Regions from separate parts of the Homo sapiens genome. Here regions 2 and 3 are each linked to region 1. Evidence: fine-mapped expression QTL. A gene starts in region 1. Each other region holds a variant in brackets. All regions are shown on one strand. Distances are from middle to middle.

Region 1 (2,757 bases):
TTTCTTATTTGGGGCCGGATCATTCTTCCTTGTGGGGCAGTCCTGTCCTTCAGGTAGGATGTTGAGGAGCACCCTCGTGTCTACCCACTTAGGCAACAGTAGCAACTCCCGCATCATGACAACCAAAAATGTCTCCAGACCTCCCCAAATGTACGCGGGGCGGCGAGGAGGGGCAACACCGGCCCTGGTCGAGAACCGCTAGCCTAGGCTCGCCCCTCTACCTGGGCGCCACAACTTGCCAGGGTTGGTTATTCTCCCTGGATCCTTTCCTTCCTCCTCATTTGAGCTTCACGCCCTCAAGTATGACCAAAGGTTCTGTCATTCCACTCCTGCAGTTTTCATTAAGGTCTTAGGCCACTTCCATGTCAAGAAACACAGTGGCTCTTTCTAACCCCTGGCCATGAGGCACCCCTGGAGGAGGAGCCGTGAGGGTAGGGAAGATGCTGAGGGGGATGTTGACCTTGCCGACTTCCAGGCGCCTCCGCTGCATCCCGGAGGAGGCGTTGGGCGGTGAGGGTGCAGCGGGGGGGCGGGCCCCGCAGGATGAGGTGTCCGTGTGCGGCTAGCGCCACAGGCAAGACCGGGCTCCTTGCGGGGCGGAGGTGAGGCCGTGAGCATAGCTCTCAAACTGGAGGGCGCCTCAGAATCACTTGACGGGCTTGCGAGAATGTGGACTGCTGGGCCCCACCTTCATGGTTTTAGTGCAGGAAAAACCGAATAGGCTGGGTGGGACGGAGAATCTGCATTTTCTCAAGTTCCCAGATGAGGCTGAAGCTGCTGGTCCGGGCACCACCCTTAGAAAACCTCCAGTGTAGAGTGCGGAAATGGGGTCCACATCTGGCTTGGGACGCCCAAACATCGATTATGTGCGACCAGAGGATGAGCAGATAGGGAGATGAGACACTGAGAGCTGGGAGAGAGGGGGCCCCCGGCCGCCGGCTGAAGGAGGACGGCGCAGGCGGCGGTCCGGGTACTACATCTCCCAGCGAGCCCCGCGCGGCTCGCGCTCGCCCCCTGGCGGCGATGGCTGGAGGCGCCGGCGGAGCGCGGGTCCCTCTCCTGAGCATCAGTGAGCGCCCGGAGCCGTGGCCGCTGGGGGTTGCGGCGGCGCTGAGCCAGCGGGGCCGGTGAGTACTAGCCGCGCCGCCAGCCCGCCCGCCGGCCGGCTCTTTGCGCCTCAGCCGCGTGGTCTGAAGGGATGGGCGGGCGAGCGCGGGGGTCCGGCAGTCCGTCGTGGGGGCACGGGACTGCCTTTCTGGGAAGGCGTGCTGCGTCTTCGCCGCGGGGGCCCCGGTCCCCTCGTCGCGTGTCCTGTCCCCAGCCCAGGAGGGACGTCCTGGCCTGTCCTGCCCGGCCCGGAGCGGTGGGACCGGTGCCGCAGGTGGCAGCGGCAGGTGGCCGCCTCCTCCCCTCCGGGCCCGAGGGTTGTCGCAGGGACCCGGGACTGAGAGCCAGGTGGCTCCCGACAGCTGCGGCCCTGGAGGCGACCCCAGCCCTCGCCGCAGTGGGACAGGTGCGCGGGCACGCCCGGCCCCGGCTCCTGGGTCTCGGGAGCCTCCCGCACCCTCCCTGTTGTGCCTTGGGGGTGCTGCGTGGTGCAGAGGACCGAGAAGCCCTTCGCCCTCGGCGTCCGCCGCGCTCCCGCCCCTTCCTGGCCGGGGTGACAGGGGAAGGGCTAGGGCTGCGCATCCCGGGTCAGCTGGGGCGCCGCGGCGCAGTGCACCTGGAAGGCCCGGGGGCAGCGCGCGGTGCCCGTGGGTTTCCCGGTGGTGCGGACCTGCGGGCGTGCGGAAGTAACGACCTCCTTCCCCAGTGCCCATGCAAGGAAATTAGTGTTATGTGCTTGCTTTTTTTTTTTTTTTTTCCTAAGGAAGTTTGACTCTGAATATCTTATTTTGCTGGAGCTCCATTTGCCAGCACGTAAGTTTATGTAATAAGCGGCATACAGTTCGGAAAAAAATTTTCCTGTGAAAGTGCTCTTCCTTGCCCTCTGCAGGAAGAATTACGCCGAGCTGGTTGGCAGGCTTATCCACCAGCAACTGTAGGAGCTGCAGGCAGCAGATAAAGTGTTTTTTGAGTAAGGGCACAAGTCAGCCCTTCAGGACAATTTTTGTTTTTGGAAGATTCTGTTATCCAGTTCCAAACACCGTGTTATTTCAGTGTTGAAGATGGGGGAGGAGGGAGGAGCACAGGCTTGTCAATCCTAATACCTCAACAGAAATTAGCTTTGCAGGATTAACTCTCCAAGCAAGCGAGTTGAATTTGGTAGCCCAAACTACAGCTGAAGCTGAGCCTCCATACTAAAGCCTGTCTCAGTTTTAATAGTTTTTCGCTTGATTCGTTTGCCTCTTCCAAGTAGGTGATCTTATTGTCTGTTAAACAACAGATGTCTCTCATGTTTTTACTTTTTTCCTTGTCTTCCATAGATTACTCTCGCTGCAGTGTTGACTATTGAGGTTAAATAGGAATCTTTGTCTTGGGCTTGGTTTTAGGGAGCATTCCCTCTGTATCTTCACCGAGTGTATTCTATCACATTAAGTACATTTCTGTTTATGCCTAATTACTAAGAGTTTAAAAAGTCAAGGGTGGGTGTTGGGTTTTTTGCCCAAATGCTTTTGTGTAGCATGCATTGATATGATCATGTAGATTTTCGTCTTAAAATTGTTAACATAAGTGGTGGTCACATTGCTAGATTTTCTTTCTCTAAAACCCTGGGCTAATTTAAAATGCACTTTTGGATTGTTCACATCAATAAGC
Region 2 (2,757 bases), 82 kb after region 1:
GAAGTTAGCCGGGCCATGGGAGCTGGGCAGGTTTCCTGGGCCTCCTGTTTGCCACACCACATCTCTGTCTTCTTCCTCCAGCTCTGCACCAGCGCAGGCGACCGTAGACACTGTACCTGTGTCCCATGCCTTCCCTGAGCCTGTGGGCAGCACTGGCTGTCAGGTTGGAGGGAGGGAGAGGATGCGTATGAGGTGTTTCCTAGCTCTGGGGTGCTGCACTTTCCGTTTTGCTTCTCCCTTTCATTACAAGCCCTGCCCACACCTTTGTAAACACTTCCTTTCTCAGCTCACCTCAGTTCCCCAGCTGGCGTCCCAGGCAGAGGCAGTTGCATGTGCAAAGGCCCGGAGCCAGGACTTGATAAATATGGCTCAAGATGCTGCAGCCTAGATAGATATGAAAGTCTCTGGTTCCCTCCTATACTGTAGTTTTTATTCTGTTTACTTTGCACTAGACCATTTTACACTATTCCAAAAAAAAAAAAAAAGGGCTCTTATTTTATTTCCATCTCCTTTTCCTACTGCCTTGGCTCATTCACTTTAATCCTTTGATGGAAGCCATGTTACAGGTAAGGGAATAACTACTTATTAGTGGTCATTTAGCTCTTTGGGATGCTGGTTGCTTGAGGCAGCTTTGGAGACAGAAGGACGTCACAGACCAGTGATTGTGAGCTCTTGGTCTCAATATAGCTGCCAGATTATAGCCTCTCTCTTGGGTCTGCATTTCATATTTGGGACTTGCCTCGGCCTCTGTTTCTTATTCCAGATTACACCCTATTCCTTATGGGTCTCCATATTATACCCTATTCCTTATGGGTCTCCAGATTACACCCTATTCTTTATGGGTCTTCACCTTCTGGCAGGAGTCCATAGTTTCTTACTCCACTATCAAAGTTTGTTTTCAGGTTTGAGGTGGTGTGGTTAGCGATGTACAAATGTTCTTTTCCATTTAGTTTTTGTTTTTATCACTTCTTTTTTTCCAGTGACTTCTGCTGATGGGATCAATGAATTTTACTTTGGAATTTTTCTTCTGATGCTGTATGGAAATCTGTTCTTTTCCTTATTTACTGGGAAAGAATCTGAGGCTATTGGGATGATTTTTCATCTCAAGACTGTGGGAAATAATCAGCTTTGAAGCATTTCCTGTGGCCATTTGCTGAAGTCTGGGATTCCGTCAGCTGCGCCCCAACCAGATTTTCAGTGTTAATGTTTCCATGTTAGGTGGTGAGGCTAAGCAGATA[T/C]GTCATGTGCCGGCTGGTCTAGGAGCCAGTGTCCCAGGGCTCTCATTCTTCCTCTGGAAGTCTCTCCACCGTGGCACTGCTGACATTGTAGGCCAGATGCTTCCTTGTTGTAGGGCTCCCCTTTGGGTTACCGATGTCTAGCAGCATCTCTGGGCTCTGTCCAGTAGCACCCCAAGTTGTGACACCGTAAATGCCTCTGCACATTGCCACGTGCCCATTGGGCTTAGAACTACTACTGTAGAAGAGGTCAGGAGCAAATTCGACCCATGTTCCAAAAAGCTCCAGCTCAGTATTTTCAACATGTGGTTCACTTACGTTCTATTTCCTGCTGAGTCCCCTGGCAATTGAGCTATGTGCACATTCTTATTTTGTTGGTTCTCAGACTTGAATGGTTTGGCCTCTTCCGCTTCCCAGTGCTTATTGTGCTTGTAGCCGAGCCCTGAGTGCCCTCTCCCACTCCTGGAGACTCGTCATTATTTTCTGATTGTCCAGAATGGTTTCCCAGTTGCCTTTCTATTTCTTGCCTTAAAAGGATAATGAAGCTGAGGCCCGAGATAACCTCTCCAACGCAGGCTCCGAAGGCAGCAATTTAGTGGCGGAACAGCGTGTTTTCAGGGAGCAGGAGACGTGTGGACTCTGACTTTAACTGTTGCCCAGCGCCTAATTGTATTCCTTAAATAGGGGTTCCCTCTCTCCTCCTTTTCTCCCTCCCTCCTTTCTCTTCTACTTTACACTGTGAAATTTAAGAGTTGCAGTTTAAGTCCTACACTATTCTGGAGAGGAGAGAAACTTGGTAAGAAAATAAAATGTTTGACAAATTTAAAGAAAACACCCCTGGAACGACATCCCCCACCCCACCATGGGTGTGGGGTCCTAGATTTAACTGTAATTCCTTGATCGATGTGATCCTTTGTGGTGTTCATGAGGATTTTAGGAAATCATGAGATTAATAATAGAAACCTTCTTTTCACTGTCTTGTACTTGGCTGGAGCCTGTTTATTTTGTATGGCTAATTCATATCCATAAGAAAACGATTACTCAGCTAGCATTCCCACCTGTGTTTATCTTTCAGCAGCCAGGATTTGTTAAGCCCTGGGCAATTTTAATTGCTGTGAAGTGTCTTCCCTGCAGGTGTGTTTCCCTCGCTTCTTTCTCTCTTTCACATTTCCAAGTGAAAATAGTCTTCTCTGTGTAGAAGAGTGTGTTCCTTGGATCTGATATGTCTGTCTGCCTCCTGCCCTGAACACACATTTAATTGACCCATCACTGTGTGCTGCTGAGTCAGAAGGCAGAGCAGCGCTCCGTTGAACACCATCAACAGTTTTTGTCGAGAGGGCGGCTCATAGTTGTCAACAGCCTTCTGTGTGCCTGGCACCTGATGGACTTGTTCTCCTTTCATCTTTACAGTTTTATGAAGTTGGCACTGATAACTCCATCTTATTGGGTGAAGATGTAGAGAATCATGTTCAGAAAGCATGGCTGAGTTCACAATGTCAACAGTGGAGCTGAATTTGGACCA
Region 3 (2,757 bases), 25 kb before region 1:
TGCACTCCAGCCCAAGCTGACAACAGCGAGACTCAGTCTCAAAAAAAAGAAAAAAATTGTCACCAGCAGACCTCACTAAAGAATATTCTATTTTGGCCAGGTGTGGTGGCTCATGCCTGTAATCCTAGCACTTTGGGAGGCTGAGGTGGTCAGATCATTTGAGGCCAGGAGTTCAAGACCAGCCTGGCCAACATGGCGAAAACCCGTCTCTACTAAAAAAATATAAAAATTAGCTGGGCATGGTGGTGTGTGCCTGTAATCCCAGCTATGTGGGAGGCTGAGGCAGGAGATTCGCTTGAACCAGGGAGGCAGAGATTGAAGTGAGCCGAGCTTGTGCCACTGCACTTTCAGTCTGGGCCACTGAGTGAGACTCTGTCTCAAAAAAAAAAAAAATTATATTTGATAGCACAACAGAGTGACTCTAGTCAATACAAAATTAAATGTACATTTTAAAATAACTTAAAGAGTGTAATTGGATTGTTTGTAACTTGAAGGATAAATTGCTTGAGAGGATGGATACCCCATTCTCCATGATGTGCTTATTTCACATTGCATGCCTGTATCAAAACATCTCATGTACTCCATAAATACATATATCTACTACGTACCCACAAAAATAACAAAATTAAAAATAAATAAAAAATAAAAGTATGTATGTGCAAAGTTTAAAAAAAAAAAAGAATATCCTAAAGGATTTACTTCAAGCAGAATAAAGTACATGAGATAGAAAGTCTTTGATGCAAGGCACTAGAATAAGTGGTATGTGGATAAATGTGAATAAACATTGAGTGTAAGCGGTAATAATAAAGTTGTGAAAGTTAATTAACTACAAAATTAGAGGGCATGGTACACACATGAGCACCCTTATTTCTGACACCAACTGCAAGTTCAGGGGTCCCCAAGGCTATCCTTAGGTTTGATAATTTGCTAGAAGTGCTCACAAAACTCACTAAAAGCTGTTATATTCACGGTTATAATTTACTACAGCTCAAGGATACACTTTAATAATCAGCCAAGGGGGCTGGGCGCGGTGGCTCACACATGTATTCCTAGCACTTTGAGAGGCCGAGGCAGGCGGAACATGAGGTCAGGAGATCGAGACCATCCTGGCTAACGTGAAACCCCGTCTCTACTAAAAATACAAAAAAATTAGCCGGGTGTGGTGGTATGCATCTGTAGTCCCAGCTACTCGGGAGGCCGAGACAGGAAAATCGCTTGAACCGGGGAGGCAGAGGTTGCAGTGAGTTGAGATCATTCCACTGCACTCCAGCCTGGGTGACAGAGCGAGATTCCATCTCATAATAATAATAATAATCAGACAAGGGAAAAATGCATAGGGCAAAGCCCAGGGAGGTACCAAATGAGAATATCCAGTTGTCCTCTCCCTATGGAGTCAGAATGGGTTTCCCAGTATAGAGCATTGCCAACCAGGAAAGCTTACCCAAGCCCTTGT[G/A]TCCAAAGTCTTTATTGGAATTCCATCATGTAAGCTGGGTTGTCTGCCCATGTGGTTGATTCTAGTCTCTAGCCACTCAGGAGGTCACACTGATGCCACCTGATCCAAAGCCCCCAACCCAGATCACATTGTTGCTATCTGGCTGGCCCAAGGCCCCTAGTCAAAACAAAAATACTTCTATCAGGAATGATATTTCAAGAGTTTAAAGAGATTATGTCCAGTAGCTGGGGACAAAGGCCAGACCCCTCTTTGGGCAAGGTTAAATCCTTTTCTACACAAACATCTAGCAGGTTTAAAAATGTCACCAGTGTGGCAGGCCACTGAATCTTAGTAGAGTTTATATCTCACCTTCTGGCATGTATGTGTCTTGACTGTGTTTCTGGAACACTTGCCATTTCTTGCTTACAATCAGCATGATGTCGTCAACATAGTGTCTCCATATGATGTTCTGCAGAATGTCCAGACAATCAAGTATTTTTTTTTTTTTTTTTGAGACATAGTCTTGCTCTGCCACCCAGGATGGAGTGCAGAGGCGCGATCTTGGCTCACTGCAACCTCTGCCTCCTGGGTTCAAGAAATTCTCCTGCCTCAGCCTCCTGAGTAGCTGAGATTTCAGGTGCCCACCACCACGCCCAGCTAATTTTTGTATTTTTAGTAGAGATGGGGTTTCACCATGTTGGCCAGGCTGGTCTCGAACTCCAGAACCCAGGTGATCCACCCCCCTCAGCCTCCCAAAGTGCTGGGATTACAGGCGTGAGCCACCACGCCCAACAATTTTTTTTTTTTTTTTGAGACAGTCTCACTCTGTTGCCCAGGCTGGAGTGCAGTAGTGGCATGGCATGATCTCGGCTCACTGCAGCGCCTCCTGGATTCAAGCTATTCTCCTGCCTCAGCCTCCCAAGTACCTGGGATTACAGGCATGCACCACCATGCCCGGCTAATTTTTTTTGTATTATTAGTAGAGACGAGGTTTCACCATGTTGGCCAGGCTGGTCTCGAACTCCTGACCTTAAGTGATCCTTCCACCTTGGCCTCCCAAAGTGCTGGGATTAAAGGCGTGAGCCACCATGCCGGACGGATCAAGGATTCTTTAGACTTGCACTGTCCAAGATTTTAGTGAATACTAAATAGCCACACGTTGCTATTCAGTATTTTAAATGTGGCTAATCAAACGAAGATGTGCTGTAAGTGTAAAATATACTTTCTATTTCCGTGCACTCTAACCTGACAGCTTCCTACTGCAAATACCTGTGACTCTGTCTGTGCTCTTTCTTTCTGTCTTTTTTTTTCTTTTTTTTTTTTTT

Alleles and levels. Alleles are on the strand shown, and positions count from the first base shown. SD is a standard deviation of normalised expression in the study named. Not every link is listed here.
For the expression in tibial artery of the gene that starts at base 1,062 in region 1, C is the high allele of the variant in region 2 and T is the other (small effect, 0.37 SD a copy in GTEx).

What was found. PIP is the estimated chance that this variant, and not a neighbour inherited with it, causes the effect.
Region 2: its variant is the best candidate, but not a certain one, in a credible set for the expression of SPECC1 in tibial artery (GTEx, PIP 0.50).
Region 3: its variant is the best candidate, but not a certain one, in a credible set for the expression of SPECC1 in whole blood (TOPMed, PIP 0.66).

The regions. Positions count from the first base shown.
Region 1 is chr17:20,008,298-20,011,054 of GRCh38, forward strand. It overlaps SPECC1 (sperm antigen with calponin homology and coiled-coil domains 1), which reads left to right and starts at 1,062. Exons shown (of 15, transcript NM_001243439.2): 1 at 1,062-1,127. It overlaps SPECC1-DT (SPECC1 divergent transcript), which reads right to left and starts at 963. Exons shown (of 1, transcript NR_186461.1): 1 at 1-963. RefSeq lists an enhancer at 1-431 and silencers at 864-1,533, 1,554-1,733.
Region 2 is chr17:20,090,122-20,092,878 of GRCh38, forward strand. All of the region lies in intron 1 of SPECC1 (sperm antigen with calponin homology and coiled-coil domains 1), which reads left to right. Among named protein-coding and RNA genes, the nearest start is that of SPECC1, 82 kb to the left of the region's middle. The variant T/C (reference allele first, on the strand shown) is at 1,239.
Region 3 is chr17:19,983,735-19,986,491 of GRCh38, forward strand. No RefSeq gene overlaps it. Among named protein-coding and RNA genes, the nearest start is that of AKAP10, 7.3 kb to the left of the region's middle. The variant G/A (reference allele first, on the strand shown) is at 1,454.